Homo sapiens: one gene and its partners. The protein of the gene in region 2 purifies or fractionates together with the protein of the main gene of each other region. This does not show direct contact. Each region holds a gene or a part of one and is shown on either strand. Other genes may lie near its edges.

Region 1 (3,807 bases), on a different chromosome or scaffold from region 2:
GAATTATGGAGAGGGAGTCTGGTGAGCCACGAGAACTCCAACATTTAATGTTTGTGTAGAAGATGATGAACTGGTCCAGAAAACTGAGACAGAGCAGCCAGAAAGGTTAGGAAAACCAGAAGTGGCATAGGCTTATGGAAGCCAGTGAAAAAGAAGACTTTAAGAAGGGGATGGGCGCCTGTAATCCCAGCACTTTGGGAGGCCGAGGTGGGCAGATCACTTGAAGTCAGGAGTTCAAGACCAGTCTGGCCAACATGATGAAATCCCGTCTCCACTAAAAATACAAAAATTAGCCTGGTGTGGTGGCGCACCCCTGTAGTCCCAGCTACTTGGGAGGCTGAGGCAGGAGAATCGCTTGAACCTGGAAGGCAGTGGCAGAAGGAAGATCATGCCACTGCACTCCAGCCTGGGCAACACAGCAAGCCTGTCTCAAAAAAATGAAGGGGATGGGGTGGGTGTGGTGGCTCATGCCTGTAATCCTAATACTTTGGGAGGCCAAGGTGGGAAGATTGTTTGATGCCAGGAGTTCAAGACCAGCCTGGTCAACATAGGGAGACCCCATCTCTAAAAAAGAAGGGGGTGGTCAACGATGTTAAGTGCTGCTGAGAGGATGAGTCTTGGCTCTGCTGATTCCTGACTTGAGTTTCCAGTCAGAAATACACAGAGGTCCTTAGCACTGTCTACTCTAGAGCCTTCTTAGATCTGTGAGATGGAAGTATAAATTACTGTGAGCAGTACTTCTGATGTCACCATGGGCAAAAGAGTCCATATGTGAAGGTCACATGCTTATTTACATCCTTTTCTGTTTTGGGCTATTCTGCAAAATCAAGTCCTGTCTTACCCTCTCTTCATGCCACCCCCAACCAGGCTCTGGCGTTACGACGTATTCTGTACACCCTGGCACAGTCCAATCTGAACTGGTTCGGCACTCATCTTTCATGAGATGGATGTGGTGGCTTTTCTCCTTTTTCATCAAGACTCCTCAGCAGGGAGCCCAGACCAGCCTGCACTGTGCCTTAACAGAAGGTCTTGAGATTCTAAGTGGGAATCATTTCAGGTATGAATGTTATCTCTTTTTGCAGATGAGATTTATTGCTCAAAGGAGATAATTTGGGTTTGTCTGGGTATACCCTTTTTTAAAAGTACATTGTCTCATATAGCTTTTGTCTTTTAACTCTAGAGTTTTTACCTTTTAGTAGGGGAATTTGACTCTCTTTTGTAATAACTGCTACATTTGATTTTATGCCATCTTTTATACTGATAATTATGCATTCTGTTTGTTTTCTTCCTGTCTTTGTTATGTCAGTCCAGTTTTCTTTATTCTTTTTTGGATTCCTAATTCTATTGTTTTACATTAAAAAGAATTTAAAAAGAATTTGAGGCCAGGCGCAGTGGCTTACGCCTGTAATCTCAGCACTTTGGGAGGCCAAGGTGGGCAGATCACCTAAGGTCAGGTGAAACTCCGCCTCAAAAAAAAAAAAAAAGAATTTGAATCTGCATTTCTCTATTGTCCTCAGGATTGAAATACTATGGACTCCCCTCTCAAATAAGCGAAGACATTTAAAATGATTTAAATGTAGAGAATTTTGAATATAACACAGGGTTAGATAAAATAGTGCACTGAGCCTGCATATAATGGAGCCTCAGCTACCATTAACCCATGGCCAATTCTGCCCTATCCCCATTCTCTACCCCTTTCCATATTTTTCTTCTCCCATATTATTTTGAAGCAAATCCCAGGCATCACATAAGATCAAAATTTTAACATGTTTTTACCTCTACTTCAGGTTATTGTTGAAATGACCTGAAATTTTAAGGAAGTAGCTGAAAATAGCATTAAGATTGGAAAGAAAGGCAGACAGATTATGAGAGGCCTATAATGCCAGCCTTGTGGAGGAGCCCCAGAGTTGTTTCAGTAGACAGACAAAATCTGGTCTGTGCTTTAGCAACTTTGTTTCATGAATGAATAATTAACCTAGTGAGAGAGAGAGTTTCAGAAAGTTGTAATGAAAGGAATGGTAATGTGAAAGAGGCCCTGAAGCAGCAGAATTTTTATCACTGGATGATTAATTAAATGAGGGGATGAGGGAGGCTTTGCTAACCTGAATTTCAAGCCTGAATGAGGTTGATGATGACATTAACTAAGACAGCAGACATGGAAAAGTAATGTGTGGAACTTAGGGTTCTTGGATTCCAAAGCAGTTGAAAGGGACTTTGTCTAGCTTAAGCAAGAAGGAAATTTATTAAAATATTAGTAGGGAGAGGAGGGACCCCTAGGTTGAAAGGGAAGACTGAAGAGCCAGGCTAAGAAGTGTCAGAGTGGCAGTCAGCCAGCCGGGGCATTGCTGCTAGAGTGAGCGAATGCCAGCTATCTTTAGTGTTTAGGTTGTATTGCTTATCATCCATTCTCTAGGGAGGAAGCATTGGATCTCCTTCCTCCTATCCCTTCATTTTTACTCTTTTGATTAGAGGCAAACAGGGACTTTATTAATGCTCTCTTCAAACTATATTGAGGGGAAAAGGTGATTCTGCAGAAGGAAATCAGGTTGCTATTGCCGAAACAAAGTAGAATGTTCAGCCAAAGAGTAACAGTTGTCCACTGTGTAACAAACCTGGCTCTGTACATGTTGCATGTGTGTTATCTATAAGGCATGCAAGTAGAAATGTATAGCAGATAGTTGGAAATGTGGTTCTGAAGTATAAGAAGATAGATTTATATAGTATACTGGATTGATTTTCCAAGAGTGACTGGATTCTTCTTCCCTAGAGATTTTAAGAAAAAAAAAAATAACCCTTTATCTTGGTTTTGACTGAGTGGTTTAAAGAAAGTCAGCTCTAAATCCATAACTTACTATTGGATTGACTTTTGAAGAGCCTTTCCTGTGCTATGGATTCTTAATTCATTTTGAAGATCCAACAGCAGCCGTGTAGACCACCATCAAGAAATGAACATAAAAGTCTTTTGATTGAAGCCTTAAGATTTTTGCACTGGCTCTTCTTTCTGCCTGCAACCACTAGTCTGCTTTATGTCTCTAAGAATTTGCCTTTACTGGACATTTCATATAAATGGAATCATATGGTATGTGGCCTTTTGTGACTGACTTCTTTTACTCAGCTTAATGTTATCAAGGGTCATCCATGCTAAAGCATGTGTCAGTACTTCATTTCTTTTTATTGCTGGATAACATTTCATTGTATAGATTTGCCACATCTTATTTATTCATTCATCAGGTGATGGGCATTTGGGTTTGCACTTTTTAGCTATTTGAATAATACTGCTGTGACCATTTGTGTAGAAATTTTTGTGTGGACATTTCTCTTGGGTACATGGAAGTGGAATTTCTGGGTTATATGGTAACTGTGTTTAACTGCTGAGGAACTGCCAAACTTTTCCAAAATGACTGCCCCATTTTACATTCCCACCAGCAGTCTATGAGTATTCTAATTTCTTCACATCCTCAGCAACACTTGTTATTGTCTCTCCTTTTGAGTTTAGCCATCCTAGTGAGTATGAAGGAATATCTTGTTTTTATTTTCATTTCATTTTCCTACTAATGATGTTGAACATTCTTTCATGCGCTTTTTGGTTCATTTGTTTCTTTGTTGGGGAAATGTCTATCAAGTCCTTTGCCCATTTTTAAGTTGGATAATTGTCTTTTTATTGTTGAGTTACAAGAGTTCTTAATAGTCTAGATGCGAGTTCCTTGTCAGATATATAATTTGCAAATATTCTCTCATTCTGTGGGTTGTCTTTTAACTTTCTTAATGGTATCTTTTGAAATGTAAAACTTAAATTTTGATGAAGTC
Region 2 (3,500 bases):
TCATCAGGCATTTTCCACACTGAGAAAATAAAGAAGGTAGAGGAGTGGTGTATTAGTCTGTTTTCACACTGCTGATAAAGACATACCCGAGACTGGGTAATTTATGAAGAAAAAGAGGTTTAATGAACTCACAGTTCCATGTGGCTGGGAGGCCTCACAATCATGGTGGAAGGCAAAAGGCACATCTTACATGGCAGCAGACAAGAGAGAATGAGAGCCAAGCAAAAGGGGAAACCCCTTATTAAACCATCAGATCTCGTGAGACTTATTCACTACCACCAGAACAGTATGGGAGAAACTGCCCCTATGATTCAATTATCTCCCACCAGGTCCCTCCCACAATTATGGGAGCTACAATTTAAGGTGATATTTGGATGGGGACACAGCCAAACCATATCATTCTCTCCCTGGCCCCTCCCAAATCTCATGTCCTCTCATTTAAAAATCAATCATGCCTTCCCAACAGTCCCCCAAAGTCTTAACTCATTTCAGCATTAACTCAAAAGTCCATACTCCAAAGTCTCATCTGAAACAAGGCAAGTCCCTTCCACCTATGAGCCTGTAAAATCAAAGGCTAGTTAGTTACTTCCTAGATACAACGGAGGTACAGGCATTGGCTAAATACACCCATTTCAAGTGGGAGAAGTTGGCCAAAACGAAGTGGCTAAAGGCCCCATGCAAGTCTGAAATCCAGCAGGGCAGTTAAATCTTAAAGCTCCAAAATGGTCTCCTTTGACTCCATGTCTCACATCCAGGTCACACTGATGCAGGAGGTGGGTTCCCATGGTCTTGGGCAGCTCCACCCCTATGGCATTGCAGGGTACAGCCTACTTCTCGGTTGCTTTTACAGGCTGGCGTTGAGTGTCTGTGGCTTTTCCAGGTGCATGGTGCAAGCTGTCAGTGGATATACCATTCTGATGTCTGGAGGACGGTGGCCTTCTTCTGACAGCTCTACTAGGCAGTGTCCCAGTGGGGTCTCTGTGTGGGGGCTTCCCCTTCCACATTGCCTTAACAGAGGTTCTCCATGAGGGCCTCACTCCTGTAGCAAACTTCTGCCTGGACATACATGCATTTCCATACATTCTCTGAAATCTAGGCAGAGGTTCCCAAACCTCAGTTCTTGACTTCTGTGCACCTGCAGGCTCAACACTACGTGGAAGATGCCAAGACTTGGGGCTTGCACCCTCTGAAGCCAAGGCCTGAGCTGTATCTTGGCCCCTTTTAGCCATGACTAGAGCAGCTGGGATGCATGGTACCAAGTCCCTGGGCTGCACACAGCAAGGGGACCTTGGGCCTGGCCCACAAAACCATTTTTTCCCTCCTAGGCCTCCAGGCCTGTGATGGGAGGCACTGCTGCAAAGGTCTCTGACATGCCCTGCAGACATTTTCCCCATGTCTTAGTGATTAACATTTGGCTCCTTGTTACTTATGCAAATTTCTGCAGGGGGCTTGAATTTATCCTCAGAAAATGGGTTTTTCTTTTCTATCTCATCATCAGGCTGCAAATTTTCCAAACTTTTATAGTCTGTTTCCCTTTTAAAACTGAATGCTTTTAACAGCACCCAAGTCACCTCATGAATGCTTTGCTGCTTAGAAATTTCTTCTGCCAGATACCCTAAATCATCTCCCTCGAGTTCAAAGTTCCACAAATCTCTAGGGCAGGGGCAAAATGCAGCCAGTCTCTTTGCTAAAATATAGCAAGAGTCACCTTTACTCCAGTACCAAACAAGTTCCTCATCGCTATCTGAGACCAACTCAGCCTGGATTTCATGTCCCAATCATTATCAGCATTTTGGTCAAAGCCATTTAACAAGTCTCTAGGAAGTCCCAAACTTTCCCACATTTTCCTGTCTTCTGATCCCTCCAAACTGTTCCAACCTCTGCCTGTTACCCAGTTCCAAAGTTGCTTCCACATTTTTGGGTATTTACAGCAGCGCCCCACTCTACTGGTACCAATTTACTGTATAGGTTCATTTTCACAGTGCTGATAAAGACATAACCAAGACTGGGTAATTTATAAAGAAAAAGAGGTTTAATGAACTCACAGCTCCACGTGGCTGGGGAGGCCTCACAAGCATGACAGAAAGGCACGTCTTACATGGCGGCAGGCAAGAGAGAATGAGAACTAAGCAAAAGGGGAAACCTCTTATAAAATCATCAGCTCTCATGAGATCTATTCACTATCACCAGAACAGTATGGCGGAAACTGCCCCCATATTTCAATTATCTCCCACTGGGTCCTTCCCACAACACATGGCAATTATGGGAGCTACAATTCAAGATGAGTTTTAGGTGGGGACACAGCCAAACCATATCAGGTGGGGAAACGGATGCATTCTCTAGGGGGTAGGGGACTGGTTTTGCTACCAGAGCTGTTGATGGAAGCTAAAGTTCACCCTGTTTCCCACCGACCCGCTCTGGCATGCCACTTTTCTCCAGACTCAGCTGCAAAGTCAGAAAAAACTCACTCCGGCTGAGGTTGCTCTTCTTAGAAAGAGAAAATGGCTGGCGTGGTGGCTCATGCCTGTAATCCCAACACTTTGGGAGGCCAAGGTGGGTGCATCACTAGGTCAGGAGTTTGAGACTAGCCTGGCCAACATGGTAAACCCCATCTCTACTAAAAAATACAAAAAGCCAGGCATAGTGATGCATGCCTGTAATCTCAGCTACTCAATCGCTTGAACCTAGGAGGAGGGGTTGCAGTGAGCTGATTGTGCCACTGCACTCCAACCTGGGTGACAGAGCAAGACTCCATCTAAGGGGGGGCGGGGGGAAGAGAAAATGGCTGAGATGAAAGACCTTCCCCTGTCTGTTTATTGGTAGTTGTCAGTGTGTGCATGTAGCCTGTGTTCAGAAGCACAGACCACCAGAGTAAGAACATCACTCCCTTCTAGGCCACACCCCAGGCACATGTGCAGGGGGTGAGGCAGCTGAGGAATCTTGAAAGGGCTATTTATTTCCTACGAGAGTCCTGGGGAAACCGCCTGGGAGGAGGCTGGCTCAGCAATCAGAGCCTCAAATTTGCTCCATGCCCCCTTCCTCCAGATCATCCAGCCTCAGAGAGGTTGTGTTCATTTCATAGATCAGGGACCCATGATGCGTGTTTCTCTCTCTCTCTCTCTCTCACACACACACACGCACACTCTTCAGTTAAGGCACGAAGTCTGGCCTGCATGGCCCTGCAAGTCTGTTCCCATCAGGCACATTTGGCCCAGGGCTGAGCCCATGTATGTACACAAATGGGTTAGTGCAGTGTTAGGAGTCTCTTCACAAATTGGGAACATGATGATGGCTCTGTGCTAAGCCCAGTCCTCCTGTTCCCTGGGAGGGGATCTCTTGCCTCCTTGTCAGCCAAACACCTCCCCAGCTGGACTGGGACCAAATCAGCCACAGTTCAGGTGAGTGCTGGGGACTCAGGGCCTGGCTTCTAACACTAAGAAAACACACGTTCTAAGTGTGGTGGGGGCTATTTGGAGACCTTAAATAAGATCAAGTCCCCA
Region 3 (3,807 bases), on a different chromosome or scaffold from region 2:
AATCCAGCTCCTGGTTCCAAGTTATAAACCTGGCTCTGGCCCTTGTCTGGAGAAGACAGCCTATGCTGGTCTCCTTAGTACATGAAGGCTTGGTTGCCACTGTCTGCTGCCAGACTGAGAACCATGAAACCATGGCATAGCCTTACTCATTACTTTGTTTCTTTGCTTTTTTTGGATCCATAAAGGTATTTGTTCCCAGCATTTTATTATAAAAATTTTCAAACATACAGAATACTAGAAAGAATTACACAGTGAACACACATCTGCCCATCACTTAGATTCTACAATCAGCATTTTACTGTAATTTCTCTATTACATATCTGTCCACATTAATCCACTCTTTTATCCATACATTGGTCTATCTTATTTCACGATGCCCTTCAAAGTGAGTTGTACTCTTCACCTGTAAGTTCTAAAACATTACATATTACTGATTAGAGTTCAGTGTTTGTTTTCGTTTATAGTTTTTTGAAGTAACATTTACATATAAGATACACAAATCTTATTTTTTATTTATTTATTTTTTTTGAGATGGAGTCTTGCTCTGTCGCTCAGGCTGGAGTGCAATGGCGCGATCTTGGCTCACTGCAAGCTCAGACTCCCAGGTTCACGCCATTCTCCTGCTTCAGCCTCCCGAGTAGCTGGGACTGCAGGCGCCCACCACCACGCCTGGCTAATTTGTGTGTGTGTGTGTATGTGTGTGTGTGTGTATTTTTAGTAGAGACGGGATTTCACTGTGTTAATCAGGACGGTCTCGATCTCCTGGCCTCATGATCCATCCGCCTCGGCCTCCCAAAGTGCTGGGATTACAGGTGTGAGCCACCGCACCCGGCCAAGATGTACAAATCTTAAGTGTACCATTTACCAAGTGTTATCAAACACATCATCTATACAGCTTAAGCCTCTGTCAAGATACTGAACGTTACCGTCAATTTTCTTATGCTCTTTCCCAGTCAGTCCTACTCCTGTACTTCCGGAAGCAACCATTGTTCTCATTTTTATTTCTACCATAAATTTGTTGTGCCTGCTCTAGAATTTTATATTAGAGAAGGATACAGCATTTATTCTTTTGTGTAAGGCTTCTTTTGCATAGCACGATGTTTCTGAAATTTATCCATTTGATTGTAGTAATAAGTTGTTCCTTTTCACTGCTGAATACTTCTATTCTTTTCTTTAAATATACCACAGTTTGTTTACTCATTTCAGCGGAGTCTTTCTTTTTTCTTAAAGCATATGGGACTCAGGTATCTGTGGGGTCTTTTTAATTTTTCTTTTTCTTTTTTATCTATCACTGATATGTATTTGGAGAGAAGGGAGTGCATCAAATAGGCTCCTAACTGTGCCGTCTTTAACTAAAATTTCCTAGTTTAACTGGTGTGTATTAATTTTAGATTATTTTATGTAAATTGAGTAAAGTAGCTGTTTTTTAATTTTATTGGGAATTGAATTTAGCCCCTTTCATTTTCCTTTTAATTCTGTTCCATGGGCATTGTCAGAGTTTACATTTTTACATGAAATTTAAAAGTAGAAGATATATAAATGAAGAGCTATAGTTGGTGTTTTAAAAGTTCCATTGTCCTGGCTGGGTATGGTGGCTCACGCCTGTAATCCCAGCACTTTGGGAGGCTGAGGTGGGCGGATCACCTAAGGTCAGGAGTTCGAGACCAGCCTGGTCAATATGGTGAAACCCCGTCTCTACTAAAAATACAAAAATTACCTGGGCATGGTGGCACATGCCTGTAATCTCAGCTACTTGGGAGGCTGAGGCAGGAGAATTGCTTTAACCCGGGAGGCAGAGGTTATAGTGAGCCAAGATCACGCCATTGCACTCCAGCCTGGGCAACAAGAATGAAACTCCATCTCAAAAAAAAAAAAAGTTCCGTTGTCCCATAAATCATATTAGTCTGCCTCTTTTTTCTTTTGAGAGACGAAATCTTGCTCTGTTGCCCAGGCTGGAGTCCAGTGGCACGATCTCGGCTCACTGCAACCTCTGCCTTCCGGGTTCAAGCCAGTCTCCTGCCTCAGCTTCCCAAGTAGCTGGGTCTACAGGTCCACGCCACCATGCCCAGCTAATTTTTGTATTTTTATTAATGACAGGGTTTCACTATGTTTTGGCCAGGCTGGTCTCGAACTCCTGACCTCAAGTGATCCTCCCACCTTGGCCTCCCAAAGTGCTGGGATTACAGGCATGAGCCACCACACCCGGCCAATAGTCTGCCTCTTGAATATATATTTCTTTTTCACATTTAAAAAAATTCAATAAGTTCATCATGTGTTTGCTGTTAAATTAAGTATAATTTATCTATAATCTCCATACTCCTTTGGTGTTATCAACAGTATTAACAATAGAACTCTTTGTTTTCAAGAATGTGTTGATTCAGCCAGCTGAACAATACCTAGTCCTTCCTTGATATCTGAGGGGGATTGATTCTAGGATACCCACCCCCCATATTCTAGGATGCTTAAGTCCCTTATATAACATTACATAGTATTTGCATATAACCTACACACGTCCTTCTGTACACTTCAAATTATCTCTAGATTACTTACACCTAATGTAAATGCTGTGTAAACAGTTGTTATACTGTATTGGTTTTGAATTTGTAGTATTTTTTATTGTTATTTTTTATTCTTCCCCCTCGTCCCCAAATATTTTTGATGTGCACTTGGTTCATACAGAGGGCCAACTGTTTTGCAGTTCTGTGGGATCTCTAAAATAACGTAAATTGAGAAATTTAACCTCTTTCTGACACTTAATGCTAAAAGGAATCGCTAATGAAGCACAACAGATTTTACACATAACATAAAGTTTCAACATTTGTTAAAATAATATTTTATTTTTTACCTTTTTTTAGGTTTGGTTGGGATGTTCCAGTAATTCTGAGAAATTCAGAAGAGACCCAGTTCAGCACAAGAGTTTTCAAAAAGCAAATGAGACAAGTCAAGAATCCTTTTGGCTTAGAGATCACTAATCCATCTTCAGCTTCAATTACAAGTTGGTGGCTGTTTTCCAAAGATTTTCTCTCATTGTTTGCCCTCTTTTTTTAGCCCTTTTATTTTCTTTCTCTATTTCTTTCCCTTCATTAGACTTTTAACAAACATTTGTTGGGCAACTATGTTGTTCCAGGTGCTGTACTGTATATGACAGATACAAAGATTAAGAAGTTACAAACTTTACTCCTGAAGAATTTATCACCTAGTAAACAGAGGTAGATGTGTATACAAAGGAGTAGAATGAAGTATTACAGGTGTTAATAGTGAAGTCTCTTAGGACACTATGCCATTTTTATTGGTCTGTAGTAAAGTGAGAAATGATGTGTTATGTCTAAATACAGTTAACGTAAGGTTGCTAACCTTTTGAGGAACAATTGCCTTTTTATTTTTTTTGAGACAGATTCTTACTCTGTCATCCAGGCTGGAGTGCAATGGCACAATCTCGGCTCACTACAGCCTCCACCTCCCGGGTTCAAGCGATTCTCCTGCCTCAGCCTCCCAAGTCACTGAGATTACAGGCATGCACCACCACACCTGGCTAATTTTTGTTTTTTTAGTAGAGACAGTGTTTCACCATGTTGACCAGGCTGGTCTCAAACTCCTGACCTCAGATGATCCACCCACCTCAGCCTCCCAAAGTGCTGGGATTACAGGTGTGAGCCACTGCGCGCGGCCAGAATGATTGTCATTTAATCTGAAACTATGGTATTTTGGTATAAATTATTTTGATATAACATGTTCTTTTGTAGATGGTAGGTAATAGATGGCAGTTGTTTGCTTTTGTACTTGCTTGGAAAAATAAGTTGTCTGCAG
Region 4 (2,960 bases), on a different chromosome or scaffold from region 2:
CTGTTCCAACTGAGTTCTTCGATTTCTTCTCTACTAGGGCATCAGTCATTCTCGCTGGGCTTGGCTTTACCCCTAAAATGCAGCAGCAGCCCACCCGGTGAGTGACCCTTGCCATTCTTGGCTTTGAACCCTGTTGTCTCAGCCCCTTCCTGCCCTGATGAACACCCACCCATAATGTGACTCCATCATTCTTTAGGGAGTTCTCAGGTGGCTGGAGGATGAGGCTGGCCCTGGCCCGGGCCCTCTTTGCTAGGTGAGTCTCCTGGGCCAGTGTATGAAGCCCTATGGAAGATTGGTCTTAGCTCTTGGGAGGTGGCATGAGTTGCTGACCTAAAACCTCAGGCCATGTATTGTTTTTCATAGGCCAGATCTTCTGCTGTTAGATGGTGAGTTTGAAATGGGGCACCCTGACTTTAGGATGGGCAGGGGTGGTAGCATCCAAGTTCCTAGTTCTCCAGCCCTTCAATCCCAAGTGTGTGCTCCCCTGCTTCTCCAGAACCTACAAACATGCTGGATGTCAGGGCCATCCTGTGGCTGGAGAATTACCTGCAGGTGAGTGCCTGTGGGTGCTGGAGTGTGTTGGGGAAAGGCGGCCTCCAAGATACCTGGGGGCCTGAGAACTGACTGCCCTCCCAAACCGGGCCTGCTGTCCTGTGACCCCTCAGACGTGGCCCTCCACCATCCTAGTCGTCTCCCACGACCGCAACTTCTTGAATGCCATCGCCACAGACATCATCCACCTGCACAGCCAGCGGCTAGATGGTTACCGGGGAGACTTTGAGACCTTCATCAAGAGTAAGCAGGAGCGGCTGCTCAACCAGCAGCGTGAATATGAGGCGCAGCAGCAGTATCGCCAGCACATCCAGGTGTGGGGCCTGGCAGGGCTGGGGGTCCCATCCCAGGGGTTCCAGAGTGGGGGATAGTGGGGGAATTTGACCAATGCCTACACTCCTCCACCTGCAGGTTTTCATTGACCGGTTTCGCTACAATGCCAACAGGGCCTCTCAAGTGCAGAGTAAACTCAAGATGCTGGAGAAGCTGTGAGTACAGCATCCTTGGCCAGGGCCTGACTCCTGTTCTCTTCGTCTCCTTCCGCATTTGCACGCCACCCTTGCCCTACCATTCTAGGTCTCCCCTTCGCTAGAAGCCAACTGTGACTTCCTCCTCTGCTGGGAAGCAGAGTATTCCACACTGTTCTTGGAGGGCTAATCTTGACTAGCACATGGCAACCACTAATTTACTTTCTGTTTCTGCTTCTACGTATCTGCTTATTCTGGGCATTTCATATAAATGGAATCATACAATATGACCTTTGTGCCTGGTGTCTTTTACCTGGCGTCATGTGTGAGGCTCATCCATATTGTAGCGTGCGTCAGAGCTTCATTTCTTTTCGTGGCTGGATAATATTCTGTTGTGTGGATATACAGCATTTTGTTTATTGAGTCATGAGGGGCCATTTGGGTTGTTTCCATTTTGGTTATTATGAATAATGTTGCTGTGAACATTGGTGTACAAATTTTTGTGTGGACATATGTTTTCAGCTTGCTTGGGTGTATACCTAGGCGCAGAATTGCTGGGTTACCTGGTAATTCCAAATTAATGTTTTGAGGAACTGTCAAACTGTTTTCTAAAGCAACAACATCATTTTACATTCCTACCAACAAGGGATGAGAGTTCCAATTTCTCCATGTCTTTGGCAGCACTGTTATTGACTTTTTTTTTTTTAGTTTTAGCCATCCTAGTGGCTGTGAAGTGATAGCTCATTGTGGTTTTGATTTGCATTGCCTTAATAACTAATGATAATGTGCATTGGGAGTTTAATTTTGAAGTGCCCTTTCTATAAGTGCTGGCAGGAAGCTTAAAATCATAAAGCTTAGATGTTTGCGACGTGGAAACATATCACAATATAGTAACTGGGGATAAAAAGTCACAAAAAGCCTAATTCTATTTTTTAGCATACAGTAAATGAGAAGAATGGACTCTAAAGTAATGATACCTGAGTGGTAGGAGTACAAGCCCTTTCTAAGTTTTCTCTGAACATATATTACTCGTGTAGGAAGTTATTTTTTTAAGTAATAAATCTAGTCTACCTCATCTCTTCTCCCAGGCCTGAGCTGAAGCCTGTGGACAAGGAATCAGAGGTCGTAATGAAGTAAGTGCTGGGCCAGTGGGGCTGGTGGGGAATTGCTTGCTTCCAGCTGCCCCCACATCCTCACCCCTACCTCCTGCAGGTTCCCTGATGGGTTTGAGAAGTTCTCGCCGCCAATTCTGCAGCTAGATGAGGTGGATTTCTACTACGATCCGAAGCACGTCATCTTCAGTCGCCTCTCTGTGTCTGCTGATCTCGAGTCTCGCATCTGTGTGGTAAGGCTGCTGTTTCTCTGTGCTGCGAGCTGGGACTCTCCTGTCTAAGTGTGTGGTGTGGATTGGCCCAGATCCTCAGGCTGTAAAGGGACGAGGTCTGTGGAACAGGAGTGAGGGCCCGGGCTAAGGATTTTGCAGGACTTACACTAGCCCTGTCCTCTGGCCGCACAGCGCTGCTCTTCAGGGAGGAAGAGCCTAGTGTATAGTGTTTTAAAAATACTTAAAAATACTTAAAGCAGTGCTTTACCTTATTGGTCTCGGTTCTGAGTTTTCTAAACCTGGAGACATTGAGGAGAGAGCATGGGCTTCAGGGTCAGACTTCGGATCTTGACTATGCCATTTCCTAGCTTGGTTACCAAGCAGCTTCCTAACTCTTAAGATGGCGCTGACATCTACCTCACTTGGTTCTTGGGAAAAGTAAGTCCCCAGCACTTAGCAAATACTCAAGTATTGCTCACCTTAGTATATGCATTTTTCTGTAGAGTTAGAGTTCCTTTTTTTTTTTTTTCGGAGACAGAGTCCTGCCCTGTTGCCCCGGCTGGAGTGCAATGGCACAATCTTGGCTCACCGCAGCTTTCGCCTCCCGGGTTCAAACA

What was found. Proteins that work in one complex are often made in the same cells at the same time.
Region 1: the proteins of MYORG (region 2) and RDH11 purify together in Homo sapiens (co-immunoprecipitation; one large-scale study listed by IntAct). This does not show direct contact.
Region 3: the proteins of MYORG (region 2) and CGRRF1 purify together in Homo sapiens (affinity purification with mass spectrometry; 2 studies listed by BioGRID and IntAct, with this or other methods). This does not show direct contact.
Region 4: the proteins of MYORG (region 2) and ABCF3 purify together in Homo sapiens (co-immunoprecipitation; one large-scale study listed by IntAct). This does not show direct contact.

Annotation. Positions count from the first base shown.
Region 1 is NC_000014.9:67,682,265-67,686,071, reverse strand, and holds part of RDH11 (retinol dehydrogenase 11), read left to right. Parts: intron 1-867; coding exon 868-1,057; intron 1,058-3,807. UniProt on the Homo sapiens protein: Retinol dehydrogenase with a clear preference for NADP. Displays high activity towards 9-cis, 11-cis and all-trans-retinol, and to a lesser extent on 13-cis-retinol.
Region 2 is NC_000009.12:34,366,899-34,370,398, forward strand, and holds part of MYORG (myogenesis-regulating glycosidase), read right to left. Parts: 3' UTR 1-3,500.
Region 3 is NC_000014.9:54,519,599-54,523,405, forward strand, and holds part of CGRRF1 (cell growth regulator with RING finger domain protein 1), read left to right. Parts: intron 1-2,855; coding exon 2,856-2,995; intron 2,996-3,807. UniProt on the Homo sapiens protein: Able to inhibit growth in several cell lines.
Region 4 is NC_000003.12:184,188,892-184,191,851, forward strand, and holds part of ABCF3 (ATP-binding cassette sub-family F member 3), read left to right. Parts: intron 1-37; coding exon 38-97; intron 98-196; coding exon 197-253; intron 254-363; coding exon 364-386; intron 387-496; coding exon 497-552; intron 553-665; coding exon 666-866; intron 867-963; coding exon 964-1,040; intron 1,041-2,107; coding exon 2,108-2,152; intron 2,153-2,231; coding exon 2,232-2,364; intron 2,365-2,960.